Linked DNA regions of Homo sapiens. The protein of the gene in region 2 purifies or fractionates together with the protein of the main gene of each other region. This does not show direct contact. Each region holds a gene or a part of one and is shown on either strand. Other genes may lie near its edges. The genes, in order: MARCHF5, SLC25A38 and AGK.

The links.
Region 1: the proteins of SLC25A38 (region 2) and MARCHF5 purify together in Homo sapiens (affinity purification with western blotting; one study listed by BioGRID). This does not show direct contact.
Region 3: the proteins of SLC25A38 (region 2) and AGK purify together in Homo sapiens (affinity purification with mass spectrometry; one large-scale study listed by BioGRID and IntAct). This does not show direct contact.

The regions. Positions count from the first base shown.
Region 1 is NC_000010.11:92,297,654-92,301,313, reverse strand, and holds part of MARCHF5 (E3 ubiquitin-protein ligase MARCHF5), read right to left. Parts: intron 1-3,660. UniProt on the Homo sapiens protein: Mitochondrial E3 ubiquitin-protein ligase that plays a crucial role in the control of mitochondrial morphology by acting as a positive regulator of mitochondrial fission and as an important regulator of immune response.
Region 2 is NC_000003.12:39,395,526-39,397,926, reverse strand, and holds the end of SLC25A38 (mitochondrial glycine transporter), read right to left. Parts: intron 1,530-2,401; coding exon 1,407-1,529; 3' UTR 576-1,406; downstream 1-575. UniProt on the Homo sapiens protein: Mitochondrial glycine transporter that imports glycine into the mitochondrial matrix.
Region 3 is NC_000007.14:141,641,910-141,645,569, forward strand, and holds part of AGK (acylglycerol kinase, mitochondrial isoform 1 precursor), read left to right. Parts: intron 1-3,660. UniProt on the Homo sapiens protein: Lipid kinase that can phosphorylate both monoacylglycerol and diacylglycerol to form lysophosphatidic acid (LPA) and phosphatidic acid (PA), respectively. Does not phosphorylate sphingosine. Phosphorylates ceramide.

The DNA.
Region 1 (3,660 bases), on a different chromosome or scaffold from region 2:
ACTAAGGTACTTTAAAGCAGCCATAATGTGCTTCCTCCAGAGAGGCAAATCCCTTTCAGTTTACTCCAATGGGCCATATAAATATTGTCATCTATGTGAACTACGGCATGTAAAGAATTAGGAGGCAGGTCAGGCGTGGTGGCTCATGCCTGTAATCCCAGCACTTTGGGAGGCTGAGTGGGGAGGACTGCTTGAGACCAGGAGTTCAAGGCCAGCCTGGCCAAAACAGTGAAACCCTGTTTCTACTAAAAATACAAAAAATTAGCTGAGCATGATGGCACACACCTGTAATCCCAGCTACTTGGGAGGCTGAAGCATGAGAATCGCTTGAACCCGGAGGCTGCAGTGAGCCAAGGTTGCACTACTGCATTCCAGCTTGGGCAACAGAGTGAAGGCTCTGCCTCAAAAAAAAAAAAAAAAAAGAATTAGGAGGCACTGAAGATGAACTGCTACATGAGTCTGGAGAAGAAGAGAAAAATATTTCTGCAGACATGGTCAGAAGAGCATTATAAACAAGGCAGAACCTAACTAGGTCTTGAAAAATGGGTAGAGCTTTGAAAGAAAAGATGCCAAACAAAACCCAAAAACAAAAACCACCTTATGTTTGGAAGAAAGTGCGCAAGCCAGTTTGGCTTGGGCAAAAGACTTGGGTACTTATACACTTATTCATAAAGAGAAGAAAGGCTTTAAAAAGGCAGTTGGTGCCAGCTATGTACGGCATATCTTAAACATAATAGGGAGCATAATAAATGGTCTGTGAATAATGGTGAGTGTCCTGAAGGACAGGCTAAAGAATATGATCTCTTTTTTTTTTTTGAGACAGGGTCTTGCTCTGTGGCCCAGGCTGGAGTGCAGTGGCATGGTGCAATCTCAGCTCACTGCAACCTCCATAACCTGGGCTCAGGTGATCCTCCCATCTCAGCCTCCCCAGCAGCTGCAATTACAGGTGTGGGCCACCACACCCAGCTATTTTTTCTTTCTTTCTTTTTTTTTTTAAGTAGACACAGGGTTTCTCCATGTTGCCCACGCTGGTCTCAAACTCTTGGGCTCAAGCAATCTGCTCCTCTCGGCCTCCCAAAGTGCTGGGATTACAGGCATGAGCCACTGAGCCCGGCCAGATCTTTTTTTCTTTTCTTTTCTTTTTTTTTTTTGAGACAAGGTCTTGCTTTGTTATACCCAGGCTGGAGTGCAGTGATGTGATAATGGCTTGCTGCAGCCTCAATCTCCCAGGCTCAAGTGAACCTCCCGCTTCAGCCTCCTGAGTAGCTGGGAGTATAGGCATGCACCACTACACTGGTTACTTTTTTATTTTTTGTAGAGACGGGGGTCTTAGTATTTTGCTCAGGTGGGTCTCAAACTCCTGAGATCAGGCGATCCTCCTGCCTCAGCCTCCCAAAGTGCCCAGCCCTGAACTTAATCTCAATAAGCAGTAAGAAAATACAAGTTTTGAGCAAATGAGGCAATTTAAAAAAATGGTGCTTCTGCATGATTATTCTAAGCACTGATATGTCACAAAGAATGAAAAGAAAGACATCATGATACAAAAGAGGGTCTCCTATGCACTAAGGCCCTTGTGGGAAAATAGGATAGGGAATACAGGCAGTTTCTGTTCTCAGTGAACTTCCAGATGAATATGTGTGTGTGTGGGAAGCTCTGAGACATGGGACAAGTATATTAAAAAATTTACAGTACAATGTGATACACTATAATAAATGCAACAAGGTTCTATTGAAACACAGAAAGGAGTTATTAACTCTGTTTGGGGGAGCTGTGCAAGGTGTCACTGTGGTATTTCAGCTGAATTCAATATGGGTAAGACTTCACCAGGTGTTAGGAGGGAGGAAGGCACCTAAAGCAAAAATAAAGAAATGAAAGAGCAGGATATGTTCAGGGGTCAATGAAGGGGAGTGCAGGAAAGGATGGTTAAGGTAGGTTGGGGCTGGATTATAGTAACAGATCAAAGCACGTTACCCCGTTGAAAGTTTACGTTTTATCCTTTTACGTGACACAGAGACTGGCAGATTTTTAAGTATAGAAATCGCATGATTATAATTGTGCCTTCGCTAATTCTAGTGCCACTCTGTAGGCCAAACTGGACCAAGTGAAAAATTGAAGCTAGAAAAAGGAAAATCAACAATATGTGATGAACAAGTGGATCTGGAAGGAAAGAAGGCAGCAAAAAAATGTAAATAGGCCGGGCAAGGTAGCTCATACCTGTAGTCCTAACACTTTGGGAGGCCAAGGTAGGATTGGTGGAGAACAGGAGTTTGAGACAGCCTGGGCAACATAGTGAGACCCGTCTCTATCCCCCTCCCCACCAAAAAAAAAAAAGTTTAAAAAAAATTAGCTGGGCATGCTGGCTTGCCCTGTGCTCCTAGCTACTTGGGAGGCTTGAGCCTGGGAGTGCAAGACCCTGTTTCTTTAACAAAAACAAAGAAAACAAGAAAAACTTATGTTTTGGCTAGCTTCATGCCTGTAATCCCAGCACTATGGGAGGCTGAGGCAGGAGGGTCACTTAAGCTCAGGAGTTTGAGACCAGCCTGGGCAACACGGCGAAAGCCCGTCTCTACTAAAAATACAAAAATTAGCTGGACATGCAGTCCCAGCTAGTCAGGAGGGTGAGGTGGGAGGATATTTTGAGCCGGAGGGTGGGGGATGGAGGTTGCAGTAAGCCGAGATGGGCCACTGCACTCCAGCCTGGGCGACAGAGCCAGACCCTGTCTCAAAAACAAACAAACAAATAAAATTTATGTTTTATAGCTGGTGGACAAGAAGACTGGTAATATCAAAGACCAAAAATTGAGAAGTCAAGATAAGTAGCTTAGTTTTAGATTGATTGGCAATACTGTATACACACAAATGGAAATGTCCACTGGGCAGGTAGAAATTAGGTGCTAAAGGAAATGAGGAAAAGAGGTCAGGAATAAAGACACAGATCTGGGAGTTGTTTGAATAAACAGGAAAGAGAGTGAGTAAGTGTACTTTCTCAAAATAGTAAATGCTGAGAATTGAACCATACATAGAAATTGAAGGAAGAAAAAGGTAACGTGATTCTGAAGGATAAAAAGTCCTGAAGAAAATGTCATTATATTTACTAAGAAATTATTGGTGACCTTTAGTATACATATACATATATAGAGAGAGAGATCGTGCAGTGGCACGATCTCAGCTCACTGCAACCTTTGCCTCCCAGGTTCAAGCGATTCTTGTGCCTCAGCCTCCCGAGTAGCTGAGATTACAGGTATGTGCCACTATGCCCTACTAATGTTTGTATTTTTTGTAGAGATGGGGATTCGCCATGTTGGCCAGGCTGGTCTTGAACTCCTGAGCTCAAGTGATTGGCCTGCCTCGGTCTTCCAAAGTGCTGGGATTACAGGTGTGAGCCACTGCACCCAGCCCTTCAGTACACTTTCAGTAGAGCTAATGACAAGAAAGGGGAATGAAAGTCAAATTATCAGGAAAAATAATAAAGAGAAAATAAGAATCTAAATGTCATAAACGAGACTGGATTAAAAAAGAAAAAAGGCCAGGTGTGGCGGCTCATGCCTGAAATCCCAGCACTTTGGGAGGCCGAGGCAGGTGGATCACGAGGTCGGGAGTTTGAACCAGTCTGGCCAACACAGTGAAACCCTGTCTCTACTAAAAATACAAAAAATTAGC
Region 2 (2,401 bases):
AATAACAAGTGTTGACAAGGATGTGGAGAAATTGGAACTCTCATATACTGTGGCTGAGAATGGAAAATGGTATAGTCACTTTGTTTTTTTGTTTTTTGAGACAGGGTCTCACTCTGTCACCCAGGCTGGAGTGCAGTGGCATGATTTCAGCTCACTTTAACCTCTGCCTCCTCGGTTCAAGTGATTCTCGTGCCTCAGCCTCCCAAGTAGCTGGGATTACAGGCACATGCCACCACGCCCAGCTAATGTTTGTATTTTTAGTAGAGACGGGGTTTCACCATGTTGGCCAGGCTGCTCTTGAACTCCTGACCTCATGTGATCCACCCGCTTCGGTCTCCCAAAGTGCTGGGGTTACAGGCTTGAGCCACCGCACCCGGCCTACAGACTGCATTTATATGAAGTATCCAGAAAAGGCAAATTTATGAAGACAGAAAGCCTATCAGTGGTGGCCTGGGGCTGAGAATGAGGATTAATTACAAAAGGCATGAGAGATCTGTTTGGGGAATAAAAATGTTCTTAAACTGATTTATAGTGATGGTTGCATCATTCAGTAAAGCTGCTTTTTTGAACAGAAATTAGGTTTTAGGGACCTACATAGGTCAATAACCAGCCACCCTAGAACTATTTTATTTTAGAAAAGGGTTTGGTCCATTTTTATAAGGCACAGGTAAAGAAAACAGAAGTGTGACAACATCTTTTAGGTTTTCCAAACAGCTTTCAATGATAAAGTTCAATAAATAAAGTACAGCACTTTAATTGCAGGGAAAAAAAAATGCCAGAATTTAGAGGTAAAACAGTACAGGGGCCAAGACCAAAAAATTTTATTTGGAACATTCAGAGGCTAGAAAGCCACTGTCCCGTTCTCCAGAGCCTCTGAGAAGTTAACTGAGAACCAATTAAAGAAGGGCATCTGTTCCTCCTCATCCTACCATCACCTCAGTCAGTCTGTGACCTGGTGACAGTGACTCCTCTCCTCACATCCAGTCTTCCCTGGTTGGAGCTCCTCAGGCCCGGCAGGCAGCTTACAGCTTCTCTGGCTTTGTGATTGCTTGCCCAAGAACATACCCAAGGAGACCCTGTGGTGTAGGGGTGGGGCTGAAGCGCAGCCACCTGACAGAGCTCTCCTGGGAAAATGCCTTTCCAAGTAGCCTCTCAGAGTATGCAAAGCTCTCTCCTAACACCCTAGTGTGCTCTATGAATTGATGACTCCTCTTTTGGAGATTCTGAAGGCTGAAATCAGGTCCATATATTTTCTCCTTAAGGGGATTACTGAAGGCAAAGGCAACACAATTTCTGCCTGGTTTTCCAGGTAGGACTTCATCTTACTGCAGAATAGTAAGAAGCAGCAGCCCTTGGCAGAAACCAAGCAGGGCAACAGATTTCACCCGTTCCCAGTCCTCTCTTGGTCAGGACTTCAGGCCCATCTTGGCCATCATCTCTTCATACACCGTCCACGCCATTGCTGCCATTAGAGTTCTGCGGAGGGCTCGGGGGATGCCACCTTGGAAGAAGCCACGTAGTCCATAGTCCTATGGTGAAAATAAATGTCAGAACTCTGGAAGCAAAGTAGCAATACAATTAATTATCCACTTGGTACCACAGTGAGGGTCTCTGTTATCCCATGTTTAAGACTTAGTTTCTAAACTTTATGCCCAAAGTAAGAATAATGGGTCCAAGGAGACAACCAAAGAACTTAAAAAAAATTTTTTTTTTTTCCGAGGCAGAGTCTGGCTCTGTCGCCCAGGCTATAGTGCAGTGGCGCGATCTCGGCTCACTGCAACCTCTGCCTCCTGGGTTCAAGCGATTCTCCTGCCTCAGCCTTCCGAGTAGGTGGGACTACAGGCGCCCACCACCACGCCCGGCTAATTTTCGTATTTTTAGTTGAGATGGGGTTTTCACCATATTGGCCAGGCTGGTCTCGAACTCCTGACCTTGTGATCTGCCCACCTCAACCTCCCAAAGTGCTGGGATTACAGGCGTGAGCTACCGCGCTTGGCCAAAAACCATTTTTTTTTTTTGTAGTTGCTGGGCTTACCTTTTTAGGCTGCTCTATCTAGGGGGATTTCTTAGCTGAAAGTCTTTATGCAGGGTTGCTGTGTACTTGTGCAGTTTGTATACTGTACAGAAGCACTAAGCCCCAAGTAGCAGATGAAATCCAGGCAGAAACCTGCTTGCCAAACCCTGGATCCTGGATCCAGGCTGAAGGAAAAGGTGCCTTCTTGTCATTTGTCTTATCTTTTTGTAATTCACTGTATGCTCTTGGTGGCCCTCTCTTCATATTAATTAAAGAAAAAATGCCCCTTCCTCCTCCCTCATAATCTGGGTTGATTTGCGATTTCACATAAAGAAAATATTATTTTAAAACTTTCTGATTTTAGATATAGAGATAAGAACACAAATT
Region 3 (3,660 bases), on a different chromosome or scaffold from region 2:
TAAGTGTGCTTTTTTATTAGAAAAGCATTTGGTACCTAAGAAAAGTGACAATAGCTATAGTCCTCTCCCACTAATTCAGTTATTTTTATTTTTACCCTGTGGAGATAGAGAGGGCAGTGTCAGGAGAAAGAGGATGTGGTGTGCCTTTAAGGAATAACAGCAATGAGGAGAAGCTGCCACCTGCAGGAGTGGCATAAATGCTTCTGGGGCTCTGATTACATGTTCTGCTCATTGCTTAATTGGCATTCAGAGAACTTAGGGCAAGAGGGCTTTAGAAATGAAAATTAGCTATTCCCATTTGTCACTGGAAAAAAATTGTGGAACTTTTAGTTGAGTAAATATCCACGATTTTTGTGACTGTACTAAATATGTCAAATTAGATCCTCAGGAGAAAAATACCCACACACATACATCTGTATCTATATCTACATATTATTTATTTAGGCCCAATCTATAGGTATGCACTATCCCATACGGTAGCTATTAGCCACATGTGGCTAGTTAAATTTAAATTAATTAGAATTAAATAAAATTCAAAACTTAGTTCCTAAGTCACACTCACCACATTTCAAGTGCTCAACAGCCATATGTAGCTAGTAGCCATCATACTGGAAAGCACAGGTATACAGCCTGTCCGTCAGTGCAGAAGGTTCTGTTGGGTGGTGCTACTATAGACAACACACCCAAAAGTATTGAAATAAAGCAGGCATTGGCAAACTGGTCTGCCACCTGTTTTTATATAGCCCAGAAGCCAAGAATCTTCTAATTTTAAATGATGCAAAGAAAATCAAAAGAATAATTTTTGTGAACAGAAAAATACGTAAAGTTCAAGTTTCAGTATCCATAAATAAAGTTTTATTGGAGCACAGCCATATTCATTCACAAATATATTGTCTGTGGCTGCCTTTGTGCTACAGGGGAGAGCTGAGTAGTTGTGACAGATTGTATGGCCCAAAGCCTAAAATGTTTATTATCTGGTCACTTACAGAAAAAGTTTACTGACCCTAGTATAGAGAAAACCTTGGTAATTTATATCAATGAGAATGCCAATAGGAAAGTAATTGTTAACTGTGGACTAATTACATTCAGCTTGTATGCAAATTAGTCTGTTCACAGTTGTCTAGGCCAGTCTGAAAATTAGCAGATGGAGTTGGAATGTCGTGAAAAGTTTGATTCCAATATTAATAGAGTGATAAGTTTGATTCTAATATTAATGTTCAGAGTATTGAGATGTTTTCTAACTATGAAAATAATACATGTCCATTGCAAAACATTTGGAAAACATAGCTCCCTTCACCCTATAAAAAAAATTCTAGTTTGATTAAAGAACTAAATGTAAAATAATAAAATCATTAAAGTAGTAGGGTAAATGGCACACGTTTATACCTATGTAACAAGGCTGCGCCTCCTGTGTATGTATCCCGGAACTTAAAATAGAAGTTTGAAGTTAAAAAAAAGTATTAGGGTAAAATCTAAGTGATTATCAGTATAAAATTAAGGAGGACAAGGCCTCTCTAAGCATGACATTTAAGGCAAAAATCATATTGATGCATTTGTCTTTTTATTTAAAAAGACATTCTAAACAAACTTTTAAATGACATATTGGGAAAAATATTAGCATGTGATAGACCAGGAATTCACTTTCCTTTTAACAAGCTCTTAGGATAAAGCAATGAGAAATGGGCAAAGGACTAATATAAAAAGTGAGCAAGGGGTAAGAATAGAAAATTCATAAAAGAAATAAGCATATGAAAAAATAGCTTATATTTGCTGATTATTTACTACATGTGAGGCACCTGTCCTAAGAATTTTACATAATATTATGTAATCCTTATAGGTAGATATCTTTATCTGCATTTTGTAGGTAAGGAGACAGAGTGATTTCAGCAAAGAAATGCAAATTAAAATAGTAAGATTGAATTGTCATGACTAAAAAGCATGTTATAGATTAAAAGCTTAGTGGTGGTGTGTGTTTCTGATGGGAATATAGATTGGAACATCCTGTCTCAGCAATTTGGCATAGTATACATAAAGTGTCTAAAATATATGCATACCTTCTGCCCTATTAACTGTATTTCTAGGAATTTATCCTACTGGAATAACCTGATGAATATATAATGTAGGCAGTCCTTTTTTACATAATGGAAATCTGAAAAACACTGGTGAAAGTGGATATGTGAATGCTAAAAAAAAAAAAATAGATTCTGTTCCAGAGGAATTTAAAAGAGAAAGATAAAATGTCTAATTATACATCTCCTTTATACCAAGTCTTTAATAATATGTATTCCGAGTATTTTATTCATGTTCTTTACCATTGTTCTTTTCTCTGATGACTGAGTACCACTGAATGGATTGAGTTCAGTGAGTATGTGAGTGCGCTCAAGATTAGCCACACTCACAATGCCAAGTGCTTTTTATCTTTGTGCCTATTTAAAAGTATACGATACTGTGCCGCTTATCACTAGTAGCAGCAAATTCATTTGTTTCGTTTTTGCACAGTTCTTTATAAAAATAAAAGCAAATGCAATACAATAAAGGCAGTGTAGCTGCCGTGTAATAGCTCAAAATGTTCACTTATTAAAAGCAGCACATTCAGTGTATGAAAGAAGCTGTAGGAGTATAGAATGTGTGAAAATTAGGATCTCTTATACAACTATGCTCACTGTATAATAGTAAAATATTTGCAATGAACTAATCAGACTGAATAAATTTTGGTACATTTATTAAAAGTCATATCTATTTTATATATGTATTATTTTCTATCTATTGACATGGGAAAAATAGGTGAAAAGATTTGCAACATAGTTCCATTTTTCTTTAAAAAGGAAATACCCCCACTTATAAGTGAGTTTTGTGAATGATGGAGGTAAAGCTCCAATTTTATGTTCTTTCCAAATAGAAAGCCAGTTGTCCAAGCGCCATTTATTGAAATCTCCATTTTCCCCCATTGATCTTCAATAAACCTCTGCCATACATCATGTCTATATACATGTAAATGTTTCTAGTCTCTTTCTTCTATTGTTGTTCCATTTTCTCATATTTATACTAATACTCTGCTTCTCTTATTATAGTTTTATAATAAGTTCTATGTTTTTCTCTTTTTACACAGTCTCTTGGCTATTCTTAGCTCATTTGAGTTCTATAAATATTTTAGAATGTTTATTTTATTAAATTCCACATAAAAATGTTATAATATTGATCTCACTGCATTGTACCCATAGATCAATTTGGAGAGAAATGACATTTCTACAATATTGACTCCTCTAGCATATGAACGGGGTATATCTCTTCATTTATTTAGGTCTTCAATGTCTTTCAATGAAGTTTTATAGTTTTCTCTGGAATATCCTGTCTTTTGCTGGATATATTCCCAGTTATCTTAATTTTTATGCTATTCTAAATAATATCTATTAAAATTTCATTTTCTACCTGATTTAGTAGATGGACATATAATTGATTTTTATATCAATGCTGAATCAGCAACCTAATTAAATTATTATTAATTATTCTAACTTTCTTTCAATGAATTCTTTCAAATTTTCTACAGATTTAGTCATGGCCAATGCAAATAGTGCAAGGTTTGTTTTCTCTCTTCAAATACTTATCCTTACAATCCTTCATTTTACTTAGAGCACTGGATAGGACCTCAGTACATGGTTA